Linked DNA regions of Homo sapiens. The protein of the gene in region 2 interacts with the protein of the main gene of each other region in a pairwise test. Each region holds a gene or a part of one and is shown on either strand. Other genes may lie near its edges.

Region 1 (7,395 bases), on a different chromosome or scaffold from region 2:
TAAGTAGCTGGGATTACAGGCATGCGCCACCATGCCCAGCTTATTTTTGTATTTTTAGTAGAGATGGGGTTTTGCCATATTAGCCAGGCTGTTTGTTCTCAAACTCCTCACCTCAAGTGATCTGCTCACCTCAGCCTCCCAATGTGCTAGAATTATAGGCGTGGGCCACTGTGCCTGGCCAATATCCCCATTTTAGAGAACCCATCTATATAAAAAAATTAAAAAAATTAGCCAGGCATGGTGGTGCACACCTGTAGTCCTAGCTACTCAGGAGGCTGAGGTGGGAGGATTGCTTGAGCCTGGGAGGTCAAGACTGCAGTGAGCTGTGACGGCACCACTGCACTCCAGCCAGGGTGACAGAGTGAGATCCGATCTACAAACAAGCAAAACATAACAAAAAACAAAACAAAACAAAACAAAGGACTTCATGCCAAACTTAGTTACACTCTGTCAGCTAATAACATCTCACTGGTGTTTCTGCTTCAATTAAAATGTCATTTATTTTTAAAATATATAAAGCATTCTTGCAGTACACAATTCAAGAGGCCACCAAAGATAATTCACAGTCTCCTTTCACTTCTGTTCCTTAAGTTTCAGTCCCTCCTAGTCACTGTAGATTTTCTAAGAGAAATCACATCACCAGAGCTGTATCTAAGGAAAATGAATCAGACAGAAATACTTAGGATGAACTATAATGGAAGTACCAGATGGGTAATAGTGGGAATAAAAAAAAAAGGGATGGATGCAAGTTTCTACAGGCAAAAGCAACAGGACTTAGCATTTAGCATAGGGCCTGGAACATAGCAGGCACTTCAAAATATTTTCTATGTGGCTCCTGAATGACATGAGTAGAAGAATGACCAAAATCGTTTCAAGGTGTAGAGGCAGGATGACAAGGAGCTGAAAAGTGCCATTAACATTGCTAAAACAACAATAAAAAATCAAGATTCAGGTATGAAAGGGGAAGAAGACAAGACATGTAGTTTTGAACCTATGAGTTGGAAATGCTCATGGGCCATGTAAGTGAGAACTGTCAGGTGTTTGGAAATGTGACCTGGTGCTAATGAATGAAGTTGGAAGCTTTGGGTATAAATTTTAGAATTATCTTTCAAAAAAATTGGGTATGATTAGATAACTAAAGAAAATACTGTTTGAGGACAGTATAGAAGATGATGTCCAAGGACAGAAAATTAGTAACTGTCTACATTAGGGAGACAAAGATGAGTGAAACCATGAGAGCCAAGTATCATGAAAATTCAGGAGGGAGACTATGTTAAGAAAGTGGCAGGCTTATGCCTGTAATCCCAACACTTTGGGAAGCCGAGGTGGGAGGATCGCTTTAGACTAGGTACTTGAAGCTGAATGAGCTATGATTGCACCACTGTACTCTAACCTGGGTGACAGAGCGAGACTCTGCCTCTAAGTAAATACATTTAAAAAATAAGGCAGTAGTCATTGGTAGTATCTGATGAGGAAAATAGGTCAAGTAGAATGAAAAATGAGAAAAAGTGGTCAGATTTAGTCATCAGAAAGGCGACAGACAAGTGCAATGGCTCATGCCTATAATCCCAGCACTTTCAGAGGCTAAGGTGGAAGGATTGCTTAAGCCCAGGAGTTCCAGACTAGCCTGGACAAGAGACTCCATGTCTACATATAAAAATAAAAATTAAATTAAAAAAAAAAGAGACGGAAGAGGGCAAAAATTTGGCAGGAAATAACAAACAAATGGGTGGTGAAGAAGTGAATACAACCCCTGCCTTGCCTTCTTCTCTTGAGAAATCTGAAGGTGAGGGGATGGCAAGGGATGGAACAGTAAGCAAATGGGCAAAAAATGAAATGTAAATGTGCAACCCGGAATTGGCAACTCTGTGGCCTTCCTTATAGGGCTAGCAGTGCCAACAGTTTTCAAGAGGCACGATACTAACACATTTGTAGGGAAAGGAGCCAAGAGGACGAAAAAGGCTGTAGGTATGACTCTTGGTAATTGAGCAAGATCTGATATGGGAAAGAAATGACATCTAACTTACAGTTGGATTCGGAGAGGAAAAAGAGGTGCTCCTCCCGACCCAGAAAGGGAGGGAAAGTTTAAGATATTTTGAAGTGAGGAGGGAATATAAGGGTGTGACTGACAGCCCGTATTTTCTCAGAAAAGTAGGTGACCTAGTTGTCCCTCCCCAACAGAGAATTAACTATCACCTAGGTGAGGAGCCCCAAAAGCTAGACACTGGACTAACGTAAACATGAGTAGGTTTTTAAGTATTTATCTTATGGCAGATATTTTTTAAAATCTACAATAATCCTAACAGGTAGGTACTATTTTTCTTCCCATTTAAAAACCTTATGCTTCCCCTAAGAGGATATGACACTTGCCCACAGCTAACAAGCATACATTTAAACCCAGATCCAACTGCATGGTTTTTAAGTCTATTACATCTTACAGCAAGGGTATAGCAGAGGCCATGAACTGATGGGCTTGTAAGTATGTGTATCTCACCTCCAGTATTGATCTTTGTAAAAAAACAGATGAACAAAAAAATATGGTTTGTGCTTTCTGAACTTTATAATTAAGACTACATACATATGGGAGTAAAATACTGGCAAGAAAGGAAACCGTAGAGCAAATACTTTGCAAATAAGAAATTGCCATTCCTTTGATTCTTTTTGATTCATATGAACTCCTGTTACAGAGACAATTGTTGTGGATACATTCCCTTTGACCTACGAAAATTAGATTTGAACAAAGGTTCAGATTGGATTTAGATTAAGTCCTGCTCAGTGAAAATTATGAAAACACTCTGACACTACAGTAACTGATATGAAATAATAAATCCTCACTTAACATTGTCAATAGCTTCTTAGAAACTGGTTTTCAGTGAAACAACGTACAATGAAACCGATTTTTGTTATCATCAATATTATAACGAAATGAAAACAACACTGAATGAAAATTTTTTTGTGGACCTGCTGTAAGTTGTTTGGCTTAAAGCCATGATTTCTAAGAACCTATCGTTAAGTGAGGACCTACTGTACTCTATAACCATGCTGCTATTCTTTATTCCTGATATCCCATTACTTTTTTTATTTTTGAGATGGAGCCTCGCTCTGTCACCCAGACTGGAGTGCAGTGGAACGATCTCAGCTCACTGCAGCCTTGACCTCCCAGGTTCAAGCGATTCTCCTGCCTCAGCCTCCCAACTAGCTGGGACTACAGGCGTCTGCCACCACTCCTAGCTAATTTTTGTATTTTTAGTAGAGATGGGGTTTCACCATGTTGGCCAGGCTGCTCCTGACCTCAGGTGATCTGCCCATGTCTGCCTCCCAAAATGCTGGGATTACAGGCGTGAGCCCCCGGCCGACCTTTCTAATCTAAAAAAAAAAAAAGAGATGAAGTCTCACTGTGTTCCCTAGGCTGGTCTCCTGGGCTCAAGCGATCCTCCCACCTTGGCCTCCCGAAGTGTTGGGATTACAGGCCCGAGCCAGCGGGCCCAGCATGCGGACCATTTCCAGTCAAATACTGGGATAAACTGCAATAAATGACCCTAAGAAGCAGGTGAATTGTCTCAGGAGCTCAAGCTTCTTTTGGAGAAGGACTCAACCAGCTGTGACTGGCTGTGAATATGGAGGAAAAGGGCCACTAGTCAAGGTATGTAGATAGCTTTTAGAAGTCAGAAGAAGCACGCCTGCAGTCCCAGCTACTCAGGAGGCTGAGGCCGGAGGATCGCTTGAGCCTGGGGAGATAGAGGTTGCAGAGAGCCGAGACCACGCCACTGCAGCCCAGCCTGGACAGAGGTGAGACGCTCGCGGACCTTAGCTTGGGGTTGGCGGCGTTAGGAAGAAACCGACCTCGAGACCCTGAAGACCTGACAACAGCCGTTACTCTGGCTGACAAGTCATTGGATTTCTGGCGCACGCGCGGCGCGGCACGGGCAGCTTCCGGTTTCCAGCCTTGCCCCCGCCCCTACCTTCCGCCCCACCTCCAGGCTAGTTCCTCCTCTTGGCCCCGCCCCCTGACCTTCCTTCTCCCTATCCCTAGGCCCCGCCCCCTGACCCGCACCTTCCCGCCGCCCCTCCCCGGTTCCATTTCATTGTTGGATTGTGGCGCTTCACTCCTGCTGGCGGCCGGCAGGGGGCGGAGTTCGAGCCTGGATTTTTTTCCTCGGGGCCTCCCCCGGGAGGCCGTCCCGGCGTGGGGGAGGGGAGGACGGGGCGGGAGGACGCGGTTCGGTCGGCTGCAGCGCTACTTTTGGTCCGGGGTCGGCAGGGAGGCCGCGGCTACCGCATCACAGCTGACGTGAGGACTACGTGGGGCCGCTGCCGGCTCCGGGTTGCTGGGCGGCGGCGCCGCTGCTGAGCGGCGGTCGGGCTCGCCGTCTCCACCTCCTCGCGTCCGTAATCAGTGACGAGGTCCGCTACGTAAATCCCTTTGCGGCGGGTAAGTGGTGCGTCGGCTCCGGCCCCGAGACCCAGCAGCGGGCGACGCGGCGCAGGAGGTGGAGGTGGAGGCAGGAGGCGGAGCGGAGCCGGGTGCGGTGGAGCAGCAGAGGCCGAGCGGAGCCGTGGGCGGCGGGCCGGGACCCCGGGGCCGGGCCAAGGACTGGCGGGGCAGCCGCGAGTTCACCTGACGCGGCCCCTCGCTCGGCGCCCCCGAGGCCGCCGGCTCGCCGCCCCACGCCCGCTTCGTGCGCTCAGCTGCCCCGGGACCCGCCTGCCTCCTCGCGAACTTGGGACGAGTTGGAAAATCCTCCCTGAGAGAGCCGTGCGGCTCAGGGGAGCGGTTTAACTCGGAAAAGGAAAAGGAATCCAGAAGTAAGGACCTCGGATTTGAGTGCCCCCAGCGCCTCTGCCCCACTTTACGAGCGCAGTTTAGACGAAAGCGGACGCAGCCCGTTTTCCCCCAAAACCTGGGCCGGAGGGCCTCGCAGCTGAGTCATTCGGTCCCGGGCGCGGGCAGTCTCCGGAGTGGGAAGGGCAGAGCCGCGACCGCTCTCGGAAGGCGCATTTTCCCTTCTGCCTGAGTCTTGCCTTTTTAGGGCCATCTGGTAAGGTTTCCAGAGCCTGTTGAATCTGGGGAATAAACACATTATTAAACATACTTTTTTTTTTTGAGACGGAGTCTTGCTGTTACCCAGGCTGGAATGCAGGGGCATGATCTCGGCTCACTGCAGCCTCTGCCTCCTGGGTTCAAGCGATTCTCTTGCCTCAGCCTCCCGAGTAGCTGGGATTACAGGCATGCGCCACCACGCCTGCTAATTTTTGTATTTTTAGTAGAGATGGGGTTTTACCATGTTGGTCAGGCTGGTCTCGAACTCCTGACCTTCCACCCACCTCGGCCTCCCAAAGTGCTGGGATTACAGGCGTGAGCCGCCGCGCCTGGCCTCAGCATGTTTCTTGATCCTGTTGCGTTTTATTTGTATATCAGATACCTGAGTTTGAAATCACTTAGGGGTTTCCTGCATGCTGCTCAGTGAAGCAGCGGTGAGTTTGTAATCACATTTTAAGAAATTGGGACTTACAGGGCCAGTCTCAAAGTGTCACTGAAATTGAAAGAGCTCCTTTAACACTGTGGCTTACGTACGTGACTCAGTTTCCTTTCTACTTAATTTGCCGGGCAGATGAGGGTGTACCTTTCCCTTGAAACAAAGATCTAGATTGAACAGTGAGAGGTCCGCTGTGAACATTGCATCAGATTACATGAATAAACCACGCTGTTTTTTATTTGTTGTTTTTTTGTTTTTTGCTTTGAGCGCCACGTTTTTTTCCTAGTCTTTTTTTTTTTTTTTTTGAGACGGGGTCTCGCTCTGTCGCCCAGGCTGGAGTGCAGTGGTCCGCTCTCAGCTCACTGCAAGCTCCGCCTCCTGGGTTCACGCCATTCTCCTGCCTCAGCCTCCTGAGTAGCTGGGACTACAGGCGCCCGCCACCACGCCTGGCTAATTTTTTGTATTTTTAGTAGAAACGGGGTTTCACAGTGTTAGCCAGGATGGTCTCGATCTCCTGACCTCGTGATCCGCCCGCGTCGGCCTCCCAAAGTGCTGGGATTACAGGCATGAGCCACCGCTCCCGGCCTTTTTTTCCTAGTCTTGATTCTTTTTTTGGATAAACTTTCCCTTCCTAAGTCATAGTAGTCTTAAAGTCTTTCAATCTAAAGTAATTTTTTTCCCAAAGGAAGGCAAATTGCACACAATATGTTTTGGCCAATAAATGCTAAGTATTAAAACTGATGTTTAAAGAACTATGTATTGATCCCAACACAGCTTTAACAAATATATTAAAATGGTTTTGATCCTGAATGAGTAAACACTTAAAGCATTGTCAGTATTCACACAACTTTGGCGAATCTGTAAATAGATGAATATAACACTTACTTTCCCAGTGAATTGGTGATGGATATGGAATCATTTTGGTGATTGCGAAGTTGTAATTACGGTGATGTTTTGTGTACATATTTTGGTGACAGTATATGAATAAATTTTTATTGAATGCGTAAACATAGGACATTTTTATTTTTAGTCTTTTTGTTTTTGCATTGTCCCTGAAAGTTAATGAAATTTACTTCTTCTTCCTGAATTTTAAACTCTGGAATCCATAGTTAATAGGCTGTATTCCAGTTTCCTACTCAGGTGAGTCACTGCCTAATCAAAATACAAAATCTTGCTTAGGGTTATGACCATTTCATGAAAAGTAGGGAAGAGTTTTGAATTATTAACATATATAAGGAATCCTGACTGAATCTTTACCAACATAGACATATATTTCTGATCCTTTTTCTCCCAAGTTGTATTCCCTGCAAATTAAGTATTGGGCCAGAAGATTGAGCTAGGTTTATTGTTTAAGTGGATGTTCTTACTGAAAAGCTCTCAAATGTCCTGTTCCTTTTAGATAGACTTCTTAAAATAAAACTGAACAGTGCAAACACTTAATAGCTGAACGATTGAGAGACGTTATTTTTTAGAGCAGTTTTACAACCATTGATATTTTTATATTTCCTTACCAACATTGATTGATAAGGAAATAAGCCTGAAATACCGAATTTTATTGTTTCTACTTAAGTAAATGGATGGATTCCATATGTAAAAGTCAGCTTTGAAAATAGTTATTATTGTACATTGAATACAGTTTTGATATTATCAACACAGGAACTTAAAAATCCAGTTTAGGCCGGGCATGGTGGCTCACGCCTGTAATCCCAGCATTTTGGGAGGCTGAGGCAGGCGGATCGCCTGAGGTCAGGAGTTCAAGACCAGCCTAACCAACATGAAGAAACCCCGTCTCTACTAAAAATACAAAATTAGCCGGGCATGGTGGCCCATGCCTGTAATTGTGGCTACTTGGGAGGCTGAGACTGGAGAATTGCTTGAACCCCGGAGGCGGAGGGTGCAGTGAGCCAAGATCAAGCCA
Region 2 (7,824 bases):
CAGGTCAGGAAGAGGGATGGCTGGTCCCAAGGCCCAGCACTTTCCCACATGCCGTCCCCACATCACGGGGGTCCAAAACACTCCCCCCACCCTTCCCCAAGCAGTTCCCATGCTTCTCCCTCCTTCCTAAAACACATTCTTCCCTGGCTTCCAGCACTGCCTCCTGGTGGTCTTCCTACCTCCCCGTCAGCACCCCTGCTGTCTCCCTGGCCTGACCTTCTCAGCCTACACTCCCTCCCTCGGTGACCTCATCCTGTCTCAAGACTTTAAAGGGCATGTCTGCCAGGATGGCTCCCAGTGCATACCTGCAGCCTGGACCTGTCCCTGAACTCCAGACGCCTGTGCCACCTGCTTTCTCCCGTCACCACTTGGACATCTGGTAAGCATTTCACACCTCACCTGTCTGCAGTAAGATTCCAGCTCTTCCTGTCCAAACCTGTCCACTCCCCATCTTAGCAAATAGAAACCCCACTCTTCCATAAGCTCAGCTCAGAAAGCCCGGCCTTGTCCTTGAGTCCCCTCTCTCCGTCTCATACCTTCCAGCCCCCAAATGTCTCTCCTGCCTTCCAGCCCCCAAATGTCTCTCCTGCCTTCCAGCCCCAAATGTCTCTCCTGCCTCTAAGCATACTCCATCCACTCCTGCTTTCCCCTGAAGCCCCTGCCCAGGCTGACCCCCGGGCCCCAGGAAGTCTTCAGATGGGGATGGACTTGCTGGCCTGGAGGAGCTCATTCTGCAGAGGAGGTAGGATGGGCCTCAGCTGGAGGGATCTGGTGTAGACTTGGGAGCAGAATGTCTCCCAACCTTGAAGACCAACTCAGAGGAGACAGCAGTGAGGGAATCCTGCTCTCACTACCCTCAAAATGTCACCGAGTCTAGCCAGTTCTGTGTCCTCCAAGGCCACACTACACGTGGCCACCACCACCTCCTGGCTGATGATACAGTGACCTCTGGCAGTTCCCCATTCTTACCCATCTGTGCCTGGAGTCAGTTCTCCCTGCAGCAGCAGCTGAAGGGGCCGGCTAAGCACATCAGATCCCTTGAGTCGGGAGTCTGACCTTGCCTCCCCACTCTGCACCTCGCCCTTTAAAGCCCACCTTACTGTACCCCTGCAAGGCCACACACAAGGCTGTACGTGGGCCAGCTGGGCTCCACCTGGGCTCTGCCACGGGGCCTGGGCGATGCTCCCCCTCTGCTCTCAGTGAGGCTCCTTCTCTAGCCAACACCACACACCTCCGGCCCTCAGCCCTTCCCATTTTCCTTCCCGCCTCATTTTTCTTCTTTCACCTGTGAGATACATTCTACTCATGCAGCGTATTTATGGTTTCTTTTTTCTTTTCTTTTCCTTCCTTCCTTCCTTCCTTCCTTCCTTCCTTCCTTCCTTCCTTCCTTCTTTCCTTCTTTCTTTCTTTCTTTCAGACAAAGTCTTGCTCTGTCACTCAGGCTGGAATGCAGTGGTGCGATCTCAGCTCACCACAACCTCTGCCTCCCAGGTTCAAGTGATTCTCCTGTCTCAGCCTCCCAAGTAGCTGGGACTACAGGCGTGCACCACCATGCCCGGCTAATTTTTGTATTTTTAGTAGAGACGGGGTTTCATTATGTTGGCCAGGCTGGTCTTGAACTCCTGACCTCGTGATCCGCCCGCCTTGGCCTCCCAAAGTGCTGGGATTACAGGCATGAGCCACTGCGCCCCCGTGTTTCTGGTTTCTATGCTGCACTTATGCATGTTGTTTATTGTTTATAGCACTCTCCCCTCACGAAAGTGTAAGGTCCCTGATGGCAGGGATCTGGTCTATGTCCCCAGGGCACATAGTAGGTGCTTAGTAAACATGTCCCGAATGATGGGATGAATCTGTGAAGTCCCTGAGTTCCTTGGCAGGTGTTCCCATGTATGTTCCCCCACCCTCTCCATTCCTTGCATGGTGTTTGTTGCCAGTGTGATTTTGTGATCGCTGTGCAGCAGGTCGGGTCAGATCCGTGAGCTCCCATGTTGGTCTCAGTGCCCAGCACGGCACCTGGCACAGGGGCAGTGAGCAAGAAATACTCACAGGATGAGTACCTGGGTTTCTTGTGTGTGTGTGTGAATGCATGTGAGTGTGTGAGTGTGTGTGTGTGTGTGTTGAGACAGGGTCTCATCACCTAGGCTGGAGTACAGTGGTGCCAACAGGGCTTACTTCAGCCTCTACCTCCTAGGCTCAAACAATCCTCCTGCCTCAGCCTCCCGAGTAGCTGAGACTACAGGCATGTGCCACCATGCCCAGTTAATTTTTTTTTGTATTTTTTGTAGGAATGGGGTTTCACCATGTTGCCCAGGCTGGTCTTGAACTCCTGAGCTCGAGCCATCCACCTGCCTTGTCCTCCCAAAGTGCTGTGATTATAGGCATGAGCCACCATGCCTGGCCTGCCTTCCCTCCCTCCCTCCCTTCCTTCCCTCCTTCCTTCCTTCCTTTCTCTTTCTTTTTTTCTCTTCTCTTTTCATGTGTGTGTGTTTGTGTGTGTGTGTGTGTGTGAGAGAGAGAGAGAGAGAGAGAGTCAGGGTCTTTCTCTGTCACCCAGGCTGGAATGCAGTGGCACAATGACGGCTCACTGCAGCCTCGCCCTGCTGGGTTCAAGTGATCCTTCCACTTCAGCCACCCGAGTAACGGGGAGTTAGGCATGTGTCACCAAGCCCAGCTAACTTTTAAAAATTTTTGTAGAGATGAGGTCTCCCCTGTCAGGCTGGTCTTGAACTCCTAAGCTCAAGTAATCCTTCCACCTCAGCCTCTCAAAGTGCTGGGATTACCAGCATGAGCCACTGCACCCAGCCTGAGCACCTGGGTTTCTAAAGGGCTTTAACTACTACTGCTGTCATCCAGCCAGGCCCTGGTTCCCGTGCTGGCTCTCCCTCCTCCCAGGCAGGATGCTCAGCACAGTCTGGTCAACTGTTAGCCCCCCACTGTGGGCCCCTCACTGCTGTCCACTCTGAGTTGGTCCTCAAGGTTGGGACATTCTGCTCCCAGGTCTACACCAGATCCCTCCAACTGGGCCCACCTCCTCTGCAGAATGAGCTCCCCAAGCCAGCAAGTCCATCCCCATCTGAAGACTTCCTGGGGCCTGGGGCTCAGCCTGGGCAGGGGCTTCAGGGGAAAGCAGGAGTGGATGGAGTATGCTTAGAGGCAGGAGAGATATTTGGGAGCTGGAAGGCACTCGGCCCTGCTCAGGGTTCCTCTGAGCTTTCTGGACCCTCCGAGGTTAGAACACTGTGGAAAGAAGGGAGAAAGAGACCCCACTCCTGCCTCATCCCTGCTAGCCCCGGGGAGGGCTGCCTCATCCTCCCCGCTCTCTCCCCTACCCCAGGGCCCCAGCACCGGGTGTCATTCTTTCCTCCGTCCTTCGCTCATTCACAGAGATTTGCTGGGTAACACCTCAGGCGGCCTTCTGGGTTATGGAGATGCCTCTGCCCTCTGGGAGGGTGTTCTCCCATGGAAGAGACAAACAGGATGCAGAAAACATAGGTGACGTTTGTGATGGATGTGAAGGAGAGAAACTAAAGCCGAAAAGGATAGGAGAGTTCTCAAGATATGATGATATGTTGGATGAGGTGGACCGGGAAGGCCATGCTGGACCTACCACCTGAACCACACCCCCCTACGCGAATCCACTGGCCTCTGTCCATTCAGGTGGAGCCTGTCACCCCAGCCTCGGCTCAGAGAAACAGCTCTGAGCAGCTCTGACCTGTCACTCCAGCAGCTCTGACCCATCACTCTCTGCTGAAGTCCTTTCATGGGCGCTGGTGGGCAGGGGCCCAGCTCCTCGGCGAGGGGCCTCTCCTGGCCTGCCCCGTGGGCCCTGCCCTTCTCCCAGGTCCCCTGTGCCTGCAGCCGTGCGCAAGCCCGCAAGCCGGGGAACTCTCCCTCGGGCATGCAGGCCTCCCCGCCTCTCCAGGTTGCCTGGGCCAGAACGCTTCTCCATCCACCTCCCTTCCTGACCCTGGGTTTGGAGGTCTCCTGCCCCCAGGCCGAGAGTAGGTGCTCCCACCGCTACCTGCCGCATCCCGCACAGCCCCCTGCCCGCCCTGCGAGGGCTGGGGCACTCCTGTCCCGTGGGCCGCCGTGTCCCCGGCACCCCATGAATCCGTGTCGAATGAATGAATGTCTCCGGGCCGGGACCTGGCCTCATTCACATCCGATCTTCCGGGCCCTCCCCGCCGCGGCGGGGGCCGGAGCGCCAGGGCTGGATTCGGGGAGGGGGTGGCGGGGGTGGCTGCCCCGCCCTGGGGCCGCGTTGAGCCGAGGGGACGCCCCTCCGGCTGGCTGGCGAGGCCGGGGTCCAGCTGGCGGAGGCCGCGGCCAGGCGGGTGCGGGGCGGGAGGTGGCGCCGGGCGCTGAGTGGCGGCTCCGGGTCCACCCCTGGCGCGCGGGTGCGGGCGGGAGGGGGGAGGCGGGAGGCGGGGAGCGCAGGGGCGGCGGCAGGCGGGAGGCAGCAGCGAGCATGTGCCGCGGAGCCCAGTAACCAGGGACGACCGCGGCCACACCGCGCCGGCGCCGGCGCCCAGCCCAGGCAGCCCCGCGCCGCGGCGCCCGGACCGCCCGGGCCTGCCCAGCGGCCGCCCCACGCCCCGGGCGCCCCGGCGCCGACAGCCGCGCAGCGCAGCGCGGGCGCCGCAGACAAAGGCGCGGCCCCGGCCCGGCCCGCCCGGCCCAGCCGCTCCTGCTGGGCGCCCCAACCGGGTCCGGCCCGGGGGGGCGGGGGCCGCGGCCGCCGAGGATGGGGAAATCCAACAGCAAGTTGAAGCCCGAAGTTGTGGAGGAGCTGACCAGGAAGACCTACTGTGAGTGCTCCCAGCCCCCAGCCCGCGCCCCGCGGTCACCCCCACACCCACCGCCCCCGCCCCCGCCCCCCGGACCCGCGCGCTACCCGCTCCGCGCTGCCGCCTCCGCTCCGTCCTCCCCGCCCGGCCTCCAATGTGGACCCCTCGGAGGTTCCCGGGCCGCGCCCCTGCCCCCCGCCCGGCCCCATTGTTCTGGCACCCCCAGCCCGGGGAGTGCGCGCCGGTCGGCGTGCGCGGCGCCACCCCTAGGTCCGGAGGGGCAGCCCCAGCCCCCTGGCGGCCCCCTCTCCGCAGAGCTGTCCCAACGGGCAGGGGCTGTTGCCAGGGTGGGGCGGTGGTCCCGGGAGGGGGCGCCCGGCTGCGCGGAGCCGACTGGCACGAGCGCGCGGGGCTGGTGATTCATGCATCACGATGCCGCCGCCGCCGCTGCTGCGAGATTGGCCTGTCGCCCCCTCCCTGGCCCCGTTCGTGTGGGGGGGGGGGTGGCGAGACTTGGCACAGCGCTCGTCGTGCGGTGACGGCGGTGAAGGGTCCCCGGCACCCTGTGGGTTGCAGCACTTACAGGCTGGATTCTCCCTGGCCCCATCTCTGTCTGCCACACCGGGAAGTGGGTTTCTACAGCCCGGGTCATCTGGGCCGCGTGTGATCATTAGCTGTCGCGGGCTGCCCGGAGGAGGATGGCCTGTCCTTTCTGGGCGTCTCCAGATCAGCCTCAGTGTGTCTCCCTCCACTTGCCTAACTTCACAACTCTGCAGTCCCCTTGCAGTCCTAGTTTCTCCATACCAGGCTTCCCCCTTCCCTGCAGCCTCTCCGGAGGTGCCCTGGCATACCAGGGGTTAATGGTAATGGGTCCAGACCACCCAGGGGATTGCCAGAGGGAAGGCTTCAGCATCGGGGTCTGGAAGGACCTCTGCCTGGGTGTTTGACTTGGAAGGGGACAGTGGTTCTGGGCTTGGGTTGGAATTCAGAACCCATCCCCGGGCAGCTGCGTGGGCCCAGGCCCTCTGCACCACCCCTGGAGGCAGCAGCTTGACCGCCAGCCCCATGTGTTGATGGAGGCTGGGGAGGCAGCTCCTGGTGGTGCATTGCACAACCTCTGCTCCCCGCTTCCCCCCACTCCATCGGCCTTCTGGGCACGTCTGCAGGTCTGTCCAAGCCCACGCTTCAGCTCCATGCCCCTCACCCCTCATGCTTGGAACAAAGGGGGCTTTCCTGAGCGGGTGCTAGTCTGCTGCGAGGTGCTGGCCCTTCTCCTGTGGAATCCTGCAGCATGGAGCTCACATCCCAAGAGCTGCTACCTGGAAGGGGTGAAGCCCCTGGGCACAGGGGCTGTTCTCACCCTCTCTCCAAGGTGGGCAGGTGGGTGGCCCATTCCAGTCTGGCTGCTGTTTTGTGAGATTCGCTGGGGACTCCTTCAAGCTAAGTCCAGATGTGGCCCACAGCCGCCAGCAGGTGGACTTCCTGGGTCCCTGTGCCGGGGGAGGGTGAGGACACCGTGGGCTCCATCAGGAGTGGTGGGCATGGGCTGCACGGGATGCCTCCATCATGGTGGGACAGGGGAGTGAAGCCAGGTTTCCTGCTCATCGAGCATGTCACGTGCCAAGCTCTTGGCATCATTAGCACCTCGACTCTGCCACAACTGCTCTACCAGGCTGGGTGCTGCTACGATCTCCATTTACAGATGGGGAAACTAAGGCTCAGAGGGGCAAAGTGGCATTCCCATGATCCCACAGCTAGTGACCAGGCAGTGCCAGGACTTGAACTCCGGTCTGTCCTGCTCCAAGGCTAGTGAGAGACTTCAGAGCTCGTGCCAAGAGCTCTTCTGGGCCAGGCACAGTGGCTCACGCCTGTAATCCCAGCACTTTGGGAGGCCGAGGCGGGTGGACCAGCCTGACCAACGTGGAGAAACCCCCATCTCTACTAAAAATACAAAATTAGCTGGGCATGGTGGCACATGCCTGTAATCCCAGCTACTCGGGAGGCTGAGGCAGGAGAATCGCTTGAACCTGGGAGGCGGAGGTTGCGGTGAGGTGAGATTGCTCCAAGAGGGAAACTCTGTCTCCAAAAAAAAAAAAAAAAAGCTCTGCTGGGTGTCTTTTTCTGGCTTTTGCTAGAAGCCCATGATGGTGGATTCTAAATGGGAAGGGCCTGGGGTGATAGTCCTGTCCGGCCCCCTCCTCCGGGCAGATCTGTCAACTTTAAGAGAAGTTGAGTCAACAAAGCTTTGTTAGGAACTGGCCCTTGTGGTGCTGGGCTGGGCTATTTTTAAAGGCCTTTGGAGACGTGGAACAGTTTTGGGCAGAGAGAGAGTTGGCCTGGGTACTTTTCCTCTGTCGAAGCCCTTATTAGGGGTGGGCCGTTGGAGGTGGCGGTGGGTTCATTGGCCTCCTGTCTGCCTCCCGCGCTGACGTCAGCTCCCTAGTGCAGGCCCTTGTGTGTGGAGCTCACAGCTGTGTTCCCCCCATGTGTTGGCCTTTAGTAGGTTCACAGAATGAAAAGTCTCCCAACAGGACAAGCAGAGAAAGCTTCCAGCTTGTTCTCCCGCCCCCAGATGGGCTTCCTTCTGATGGGGAGTGGAGCCATCTGCTCTTTGTTCTGGGGGATTCTGTGTATGGGGTCAAGAGAAGCGCCCCAGGAAGGACTCTCAAATGTCAGAATCTCCTGGTTGATTAATAAACATGAAGGTACCTGGGCTGCCCTCCCGGATTTCCGATTCTTTAGGTCTGGCTGGGGCCCAGGAATTTGCATCCTTGACACGTGTTTGTGCTGCAGATGGTGGTCCTGGGGAGCCCGGATTGAAGACCACAGTTCCAGTGTATGCTGGGGGTCCTAGCCCACCTCATGCATAGCTGGCCACAGTGCCAAGGGGGCCTAGAGGGGAGCCATGGGTCCACGTCCGAGTCGGTGCTGGGCAGTGTCCTTGGTGGGCGTCTCTGGCTCTGTCTGTGGTGGTCTGTGTGTGTGAGGAAGCAGGAGTGTCTAAAGGCCCCAGCAGTGTGGCCCTCACTGGACACAC
Region 3 (7,060 bases), on a different chromosome or scaffold from region 2:
CTCCATTGTGCCACCTCTGGGAGGATCCGCCCGACCCAGGGACTGGCTGGAGGTTGCCTAGTCTTGCGATCAGCTCCCCCAGGCAAAACGTGATCCCCGGGATGGAGGAGGGGACTTCAAGCCACGCCCCTCCTTTCTGGCGATTTGGGTTGGTCCGCGCTGCACAGACCAAGGTGGAGTTAAAAGGTTGAAACTCCACCCCTCTTCCGCGGGGAACGGACCGGGTTTCGGATAGGTAGGGCCTCCCTGATTGGGCCCGAAGGCCAAGATGGGAGGTCTGAGATGGCGGGAAAAGGAAGAAAGGGGCTCAGGGGCGGCATTCGATTGGTAATAAAGAGGAGGAGGCGTGGCGCACCATTTCAGGAGAGGCGGGACCAAGAGCTCCCCCACGTGGGATTGGAGTGCCTGTGGTATGACGTCATGCAGAGCTGCACCGCCAATTTCTTGGTTTTGGAGAAAGCCCAAGTTGCGAAGTTGAGGGGTTGTGGAGCTTCAGGATTTCCCTCTACTCATTCGGTTTGGCAGGATTTGGTCTGGGATATATATATATGTTCTTTTGCCGACTTTCTCTAGTTTTCATACTCTAAGCACATTCCTTATCCTTCAACTTTTTCCTGCCTGCCCTTACAAAAGGAAAGGATACGATCGTATTTGGAATGAAAGTGTTTGAAAACTAACCCCGTCTATCCCGTCCCTAATCCCCTACCTTCTTTGTGTGGTGTAACGACTGACCCTGGAGAAAACTGGAGAGTCAGAGAATTACAGAGTTGAGATAATCCAGCCTTCAGGGAAAGGGGGAAAAAAAGCAGAGTGAATAGAAAGTGAGGCTTTATTTCTTTTTGGAAATTTCCAAGAGTTAGTAAGTCATCTCTATCTTAGAGGATGGATGTAAGACTAGTTGGCTCCAAAAGGGAGGGAGGCAGCGCAAATTATTACATTTTCCAATAATTTTCTGACCCTGAAGAACTTCTAGGACACTAAAATGAGGGATCAAGAGTAAGGGAAAGACAATTCCTTTTCACATTTGCCTGAGTTAGAAGGAAGGTTTGCCATACAGTCAGGTGCAGAACTAGTGCAGTCCCACAGTGTACGGTGTAGGTTTAGGAAGGAAAAAGTGCAGGGTACACCGATGACTATTGTTACTAGTTAACTGGCGTTAGAGGTGGAGTGTTGTCCTAGGATCTAGGAACTAGACTAATTGGAAGTTGATGAGGGAAGTGTTGGTCATAAGATGATTACCTTTTAATGCAGTATATATGGGGCATATTATGTAAATCTGTCAGATGCAGCAGAAGAACTGGGGTTGATCACTGGGAAGAAACTAGCCATTTCTTAGAGGAAGTGTCTTACAGGATGAGGCCTGCAGCTGATAAATTTTATCTGGTTCTGCAGGGCATAGATTTCATCAGCCTGTGTTTACCAAAGCTGCTTAAAACCTGTCCCTGCTCAGCCTCTATCACTTAAATTTTTTCACTTCCTTTTCTCTACTTCCCTAGGGCTAGCAGTATCTTGACTGCTTCATTCAGTTTGCAGAACTATTTAAGAAACAATATTCTGTCTCCTATATCCTCCATATTCCCAGAGGTAAGCAGGTAGAAAAGGGAAACAAGGAAATTGGAGGAATTATGAGTGACCTGCTCACCAACTGATAAAGCAGAACTACAGAAGGAACATGGATGAACCTTAGAGAGAAACCTCTCTATAAACTGAAATTTGCCAAGCACTGGAGTAGGCAAGGAGGTTCCTGAGAATGGGGGAATGGAGAGGGTGACCTATGGAGGTTCTTTTCCAAACTTCTCCCTTCCTCACCTCATCCAGATCATCAGAAATTATATAGGGGATAAAACTTCATCCTCAGGAAGTTCTTGTCCCAGCTGGGGCCCAGGAGCCACAGGATCAGCAGCTGCAATGCAGTTACCAACACAAGTAAACAGGGTGGGTCCCCGCCCACTGACAATTCTGCTGCCCAGGTGCCACCTGGTGGTGATAAGCAGTAAGTGGACAACAGGAAGGGATGCCCATTTGTTAGAGGAAGTGTCTTACAGGATGAGGCCTACAGGAGGAGAGAGAGTAAACTTCCTGGACTTGCAATCTGCATTTATATGTAAACCATAATCACCTCCAAGAGGCAGAGGGTGAGATACGGTACTCTGATCTCAGCTCACAAAGATGGGAAGGGCAACAAGATTTGAGGAAACTCCTTCTGTATTCTTTATTCCTCAAAAGTTACTGCCAAGCCAGTCGCGGTGGCTCATGCCTGTAATCCCAGCACTTTGGAAGGCCGAGGCAGTTGGATCACCTGAGGTCAGGAGTTCAAGACCAGCCTGGCCAACATGGCGAAACCCCGTCTCTACTAAAAATACAAAAATTAGCCGAGCATGGTGGCATGTACCTGTAATCCCAGTTACTCTACTTGGGAGGCTGAGGCAGGAGAATCACTTGAACCCGAGAGGCGGAGGCTGCAGTGGGCCGAGATCACGCCACTACACTCCAGCCTGGGCAACAGAGTGATACTCCGTCTCAAAAAAAAAAAAAAAAAATTACTGCCAAGTAGTGATCGCTTTGTTGGATGGCTATATCATTAGAACTTTCTTTTGTCGTCTGGAGTGAGACTGCCTGAATAGATTCCTGGCCCCATTCCTTACTTGCAGAACCCTGGGCAGGTTACTTTTTAAGCCTGCTTTCTCCTCTGTAAAATGGGTACAATAATATTACCCATTGTGTCAATGAGATGTTGCATGTAAAGTGCCTAGCACAGAGCCTTGGCTTATATTAAGCAGTCAACAAATGCTAGCCGGCTGGGTGCGGTGGCTCAACGCCTGTAATCCCAGCACTTTGGGAGGCCGAGGTGGGCGGATCACGAGGTCAGGATATGGAGACCGTCCTGGCTAACACGGTGAAACCCCGTCTCTACTAAAAATACAAAAAGAAAATTAGCTGGGCACCTATAGTCCCAGCTACTCTGGAGGCTGAGGCAGCAGAATGGCGTAAACCCTGGAGGCAGAGTTTGCAGTGAGCAGAGATCGTGCCACTGCACTGAAGCCTGGGCCACACAGCTAGACTCCGTCTCAAAAAAAAAAAAAAAAAAAAAGTTAGCCATTATTCTAGAAATCCCTTTTTACTTCCTGTGTAGCAAACAGGATCTTCCTCCACTGGGCAGCCCTTCAAATATTTGAAGACTTCTATTTGAAGCTTTCTCTTGCCAGCCTTTTTTTTCTAGCAACACACTGGTTTGTCAATGGCCCTCTTTAAAAATTACATTTAGAACAACACACTACTAAGTGGTTACACTTAGGCAGAACATAGAACTGCTGTATTTGTAATCTATTACCAAGGTTCTACTACCCTTATGGAGCTCCTAGAAAGATGCCTAGAACATAGCAGGCTCTTAATAAATATTTATAAATGGACATCTTGAGGGCTAAGATTCTATTTTTTTGCAGCCAACTGGAAGTCCCAGTTTGTTCTCATGTGAATTATTGCTAATATAAATCTCTAACATTGTTCCTCAAACTAGTTCAAGATCTAAGCAATTTTTTAGTGTGAGAGTGCTCCAGTGTTTTAGTCAATTCAAGTTACAGACACTTTGAATATTATTTAGCTCTTCCTGTGTTACTGTTGATAAATGGGTTTTTTACATGTTTACCCGAGTTGGGTTTTTTCTTTTTACAATAAAACATAGCCCTTGGGCTTATCACTAGAGAACAGAGATTTCTCTAACATAAATGCGCTAACCAACACTAAGTACAAGTGTTCAGTTTGATTCTACCAAATGCTACTATTTTTTTCTCATTATTTTTTAACCAGAGCCATTTGCATGGAAAAAATGCTACGATTAACTGACCCGTAATTTTCCTCTTATCTGTGATGACTTAGCAGGTGAGAGAGAGGAAAGTAGCTCCTGTAATCTGGGAACTGGCCTGACACAGCCAGGCTTCAGAGCTGTTAGGGCTGACCTGGTGCTCACAGGTAGCCAATGAGTTCTCTTGGACACAAACAATCTCACAAAACACCAGCATCAGACAAGGTCACTCAGTGACTGCGATGAAGTGAGACAAAAAACAAAATCACTACACAATTTTGTTTAAGCACAAAACAAGGTCAGTGTGCAAACCACAAAACAGCAAACATCCCCTTTCCCAGCTAGTGAGTGACTTCATCATCGACTGTGCTTAGGTTCACTTGTCTGCCCTTCTTCTAGACAAGCTACCCAATTATCCTGGATTCCCTTAACAGCACCCAATCCAAAAGAACACCCACTTTCTTGAATCTTCCCCAAAATCACTTAACCAAAGTCTAAGTTCTCTAAGTCGTTCCTAACACCCTCATGCTGAGACACACCACGTTATCCCCAATGGTGAGCCCTCCCCCTCACTGCAATGAGCATTAAACCCAACTTGCTCAATTACCAGGTGTATTCTTGGTGGTCTTCAGCTGGAGTAAATACATACAAGACATACAATGTCTAAAATTTCCCAAATCTACCTCTTTGGAGATAACCTGGCAAGGAGGAAATAAAGTCAGTCAGGATTTGACTGAGAATTCATGTTGGTATCTATGGTTACATTCTTCTCTAAATGCTCTTAAACCATCTCTTTTAATAGTCTAGAATTGCCGGGCACGGTGGTTCATGCCTGTAATCCCAGCACTTTGGGAGGCTGAGGCGGGCGGATCACGAGAGATAGAGACCATTCTGGCCAACACGATGAAACCCCGTCTCTACTAAAAATAAAAAAATTAGCCGGGCGTGGTGGCGGGCGCCTGTAGTCTCAGCTACTCGGGAGGCTGACGCAAGAGAATCGCTTGAACCCAGGAGGCGCAGGTTACAGTGAACCGAGATTGCGCCACTGCACTCCGGTCTGGTGACTGGGCAAGACTCCATCTCAAAAAAAAAAAAAAAAATTGTGTCCCAAAAAACATTAAGCTTATCAATGTGTTGTTTCTAAAATCCACAATGTTAGCCCACTTTTAGTCTTTAGGCTTTTTTTTTTAATGACTGGCCTTGACCTAGCCCACCATCTCCAATCCCAGATGTGACCTGAGTGATCAACCAGACAAGAAAGCAAGAGGTAGCAGGAGACATGATGAGGGGGAACACAATCCAGGATCACTCTCTACCCCCAAATCTACTGTCCCATTAGACTAGACACCTGAGTTGTTTTCCCTACATCAGCCGTGAGCTGAGGAGGAACTGAGGTTTGACTATTGGGGCCCCTGGCCTTACTGACTTAAGTAGATTTAAAACTTCTGGTCCTATGTGGAGACAGAGGAAAGGGATGGACCCTGAGGCTTGTGTCCCTAGAAGGACTCTCTTTTCCCAGACCTCCCAAGCCTTGAAGGCTTCAGGAACTGGCCACTGAAGGGGTGGGGTAGGAGGGACATTAACTGCCATCAACTGAGCGGCAACTGCCATCAACTCAATGGCCATCAACTCCACCTGTCCTGCTCTGTTTGAATAAGGATCTGTCAACTATGTAACATCCCATCCGCATTTCAGCAAATACACTCTCCTTACTGCCTGCCCTGCTAAATGACCCTAGGAGCCCTGGTTACTGAGGCAACCTGGGAATAGCACATACAGACAGAGACCAGAAACAGATGGGACTATTTTTAAAACTAGACTGGGTGGCTCCAAAGCTTTTACCCCATAAAGTGCCTTCCCCAAAGCCCCATTTGGTCTTGTTCTGGGTCCCTACCCTTCTTCACTGGCTTCTATCCATCTTACCAAAGCTATGTGAGGCTGGGGTCTTTATCCCATTTTGGCATGAGATCTATTTACTGCTCCCATCTTCCACACAGAATAGCTAAGCAAGTTTTCACTGCCTCCATTTGTTAAAAATAATTGTTCTTTTATTTCTTTGGAAAGTAGTGGGCCCTGCCCTATGGATTTTCAGGTCAAACTAGGGTAATGAATGCTCCCCTAGTCTTTGGGCTGGAGCACTATGGTCCCAGCTTTCCCAGGGCCCAGAAGCAATTCCTGTATTGTCCAACCCAAGCAACTAGGACCCAAATTGTCTGAAGGCTCCTATCAGGCCTTCTCTCCTGACCACCCACTTCCCAATCTTTCCTGGCTTTCCCTCTGGGCAGGGTATTTTTTTCTTCTAAAACCAGTGCTGGAACCTGTGCTGTGCAGAAGAGAGGACAAGACGAGGGATGTTCCCAAATTCCCATAAGAGGACACAGCCCCTCAGTCAGTCCTTCCTCTCTGCTGGCTTCAGTCTGCACTCCTCTGCAAGCCCCCACTGTGAGGCTTGAAGATGGACAAGAGGACCCTCATAAAAGGGAGGTGAGAGAAAACACACCATCCCAACCCCTCCTCAGGACATACTCCTTGTAGTCTCTTGTCCTAGTTCTCAAGGGAGCCCTTCAGACAGGGATGGGGAAGGCTAGGTGAGTGGGCAAGGGCCCCCTGACCCCAGCCCTGCGAGGCTATACCAGGGGAGTGTCCATTAGCCCCATCAGTGTGGCATGGCCGTGATGCGCATGCTCTGGGAAGCGATAGGGTAAGTCACCATGGGAGTGGTGGTGTGGCTCATTGTGATTCCTGCCAAGGGTTGGGCCATCGATACAGCCACAGGGGCCACAGGAGCCACAGATACAGCCACAGGAGCCATGGAGACAGGTGGAGGTGCCATTCCCTGGGCAATTGTTTGAGCCAGGGCAGCTGACAGTGGCGTGATCTCTGGGGTCAAGTGTGGGGGTGGGGGTGGTGGAGCAGCAGGAGGTGCAGCATTAGTTGGGGGAGCAGCTGGAGCTCCAGCAGGGGCCACCAGTTCTTGCTGGGACACTGGACGAGGCTGTAGAGCCTGGCTGCTGAGAGTAGTGTGAGTCTGGGCAATGCCATGGTTAAAAGTGGCAACAGTGCCCACAGTGGGGGCCAGAGTCTGCTCAGTCGCTGGTGCAGTGGAGCTCAGGGTTATGACCTTGGCCTGATTGCGGAACTGAGCATTTTGTTCCAGTAGTACCTCATTGGTGGCCAGCAGGTTGCTGACCTGCTTCTTTAACTCCTCTACCCGCTTCCTGAGCATGGCATTCTCCTCCTCTAGCAGTCTGCACTCCA

What was found. Proteins that work in one complex are often made in the same cells at the same time.
Region 1: the proteins of NCS1 (region 2) and CREM interact in binary tests that used the Homo sapiens proteins (3 or more experiments, as listed by UniProt).
Region 3: the proteins of NCS1 (region 2) and ZC3H10 interact in binary tests that used the Homo sapiens proteins (3 or more experiments, as listed by UniProt).

Annotation. Positions count from the first base shown.
Region 1 is NC_000010.11:35,122,762-35,130,156, forward strand, and holds the start of CREM (cAMP-responsive element modulator), read left to right. Parts: upstream 1-4,084; 5' UTR 4,085-4,432; intron 4,433-4,465; exon of another isoform or gene 4,466-4,806; intron 4,807-7,395.
Region 2 is NC_000009.12:130,167,920-130,175,743, forward strand, and holds the start of NCS1 (neuronal calcium sensor 1), read left to right. Parts: upstream 1-4,484; 5' UTR 4,485-4,744; coding exon 4,745-4,808; intron 4,809-7,824. UniProt on the Homo sapiens protein: Neuronal calcium sensor, regulator of G protein-coupled receptor phosphorylation in a calcium dependent manner. Directly regulates GRK1 (RHOK), but not GRK2 to GRK5. Can substitute for calmodulin. Stimulates PI4KB kinase activity.
Region 3 is NC_000012.12:56,121,266-56,128,325, reverse strand, and holds the end of ZC3H10 (zinc finger CCCH domain-containing protein 10), read right to left. Parts: coding exon 6,459-7,060; 3' UTR 812-6,458; downstream 1-811. Other genes in the region: ESYT1 (extended synaptotagmin-1), read right to left, coding at 1-6. UniProt on the Homo sapiens protein: Specific regulator of miRNA biogenesis. Binds, via the C3H1-type zinc finger domains, to the binding motif 5'-GCAGCGC-3' on microRNA pri-MIR143 and negatively regulates the processing to mature microRNA.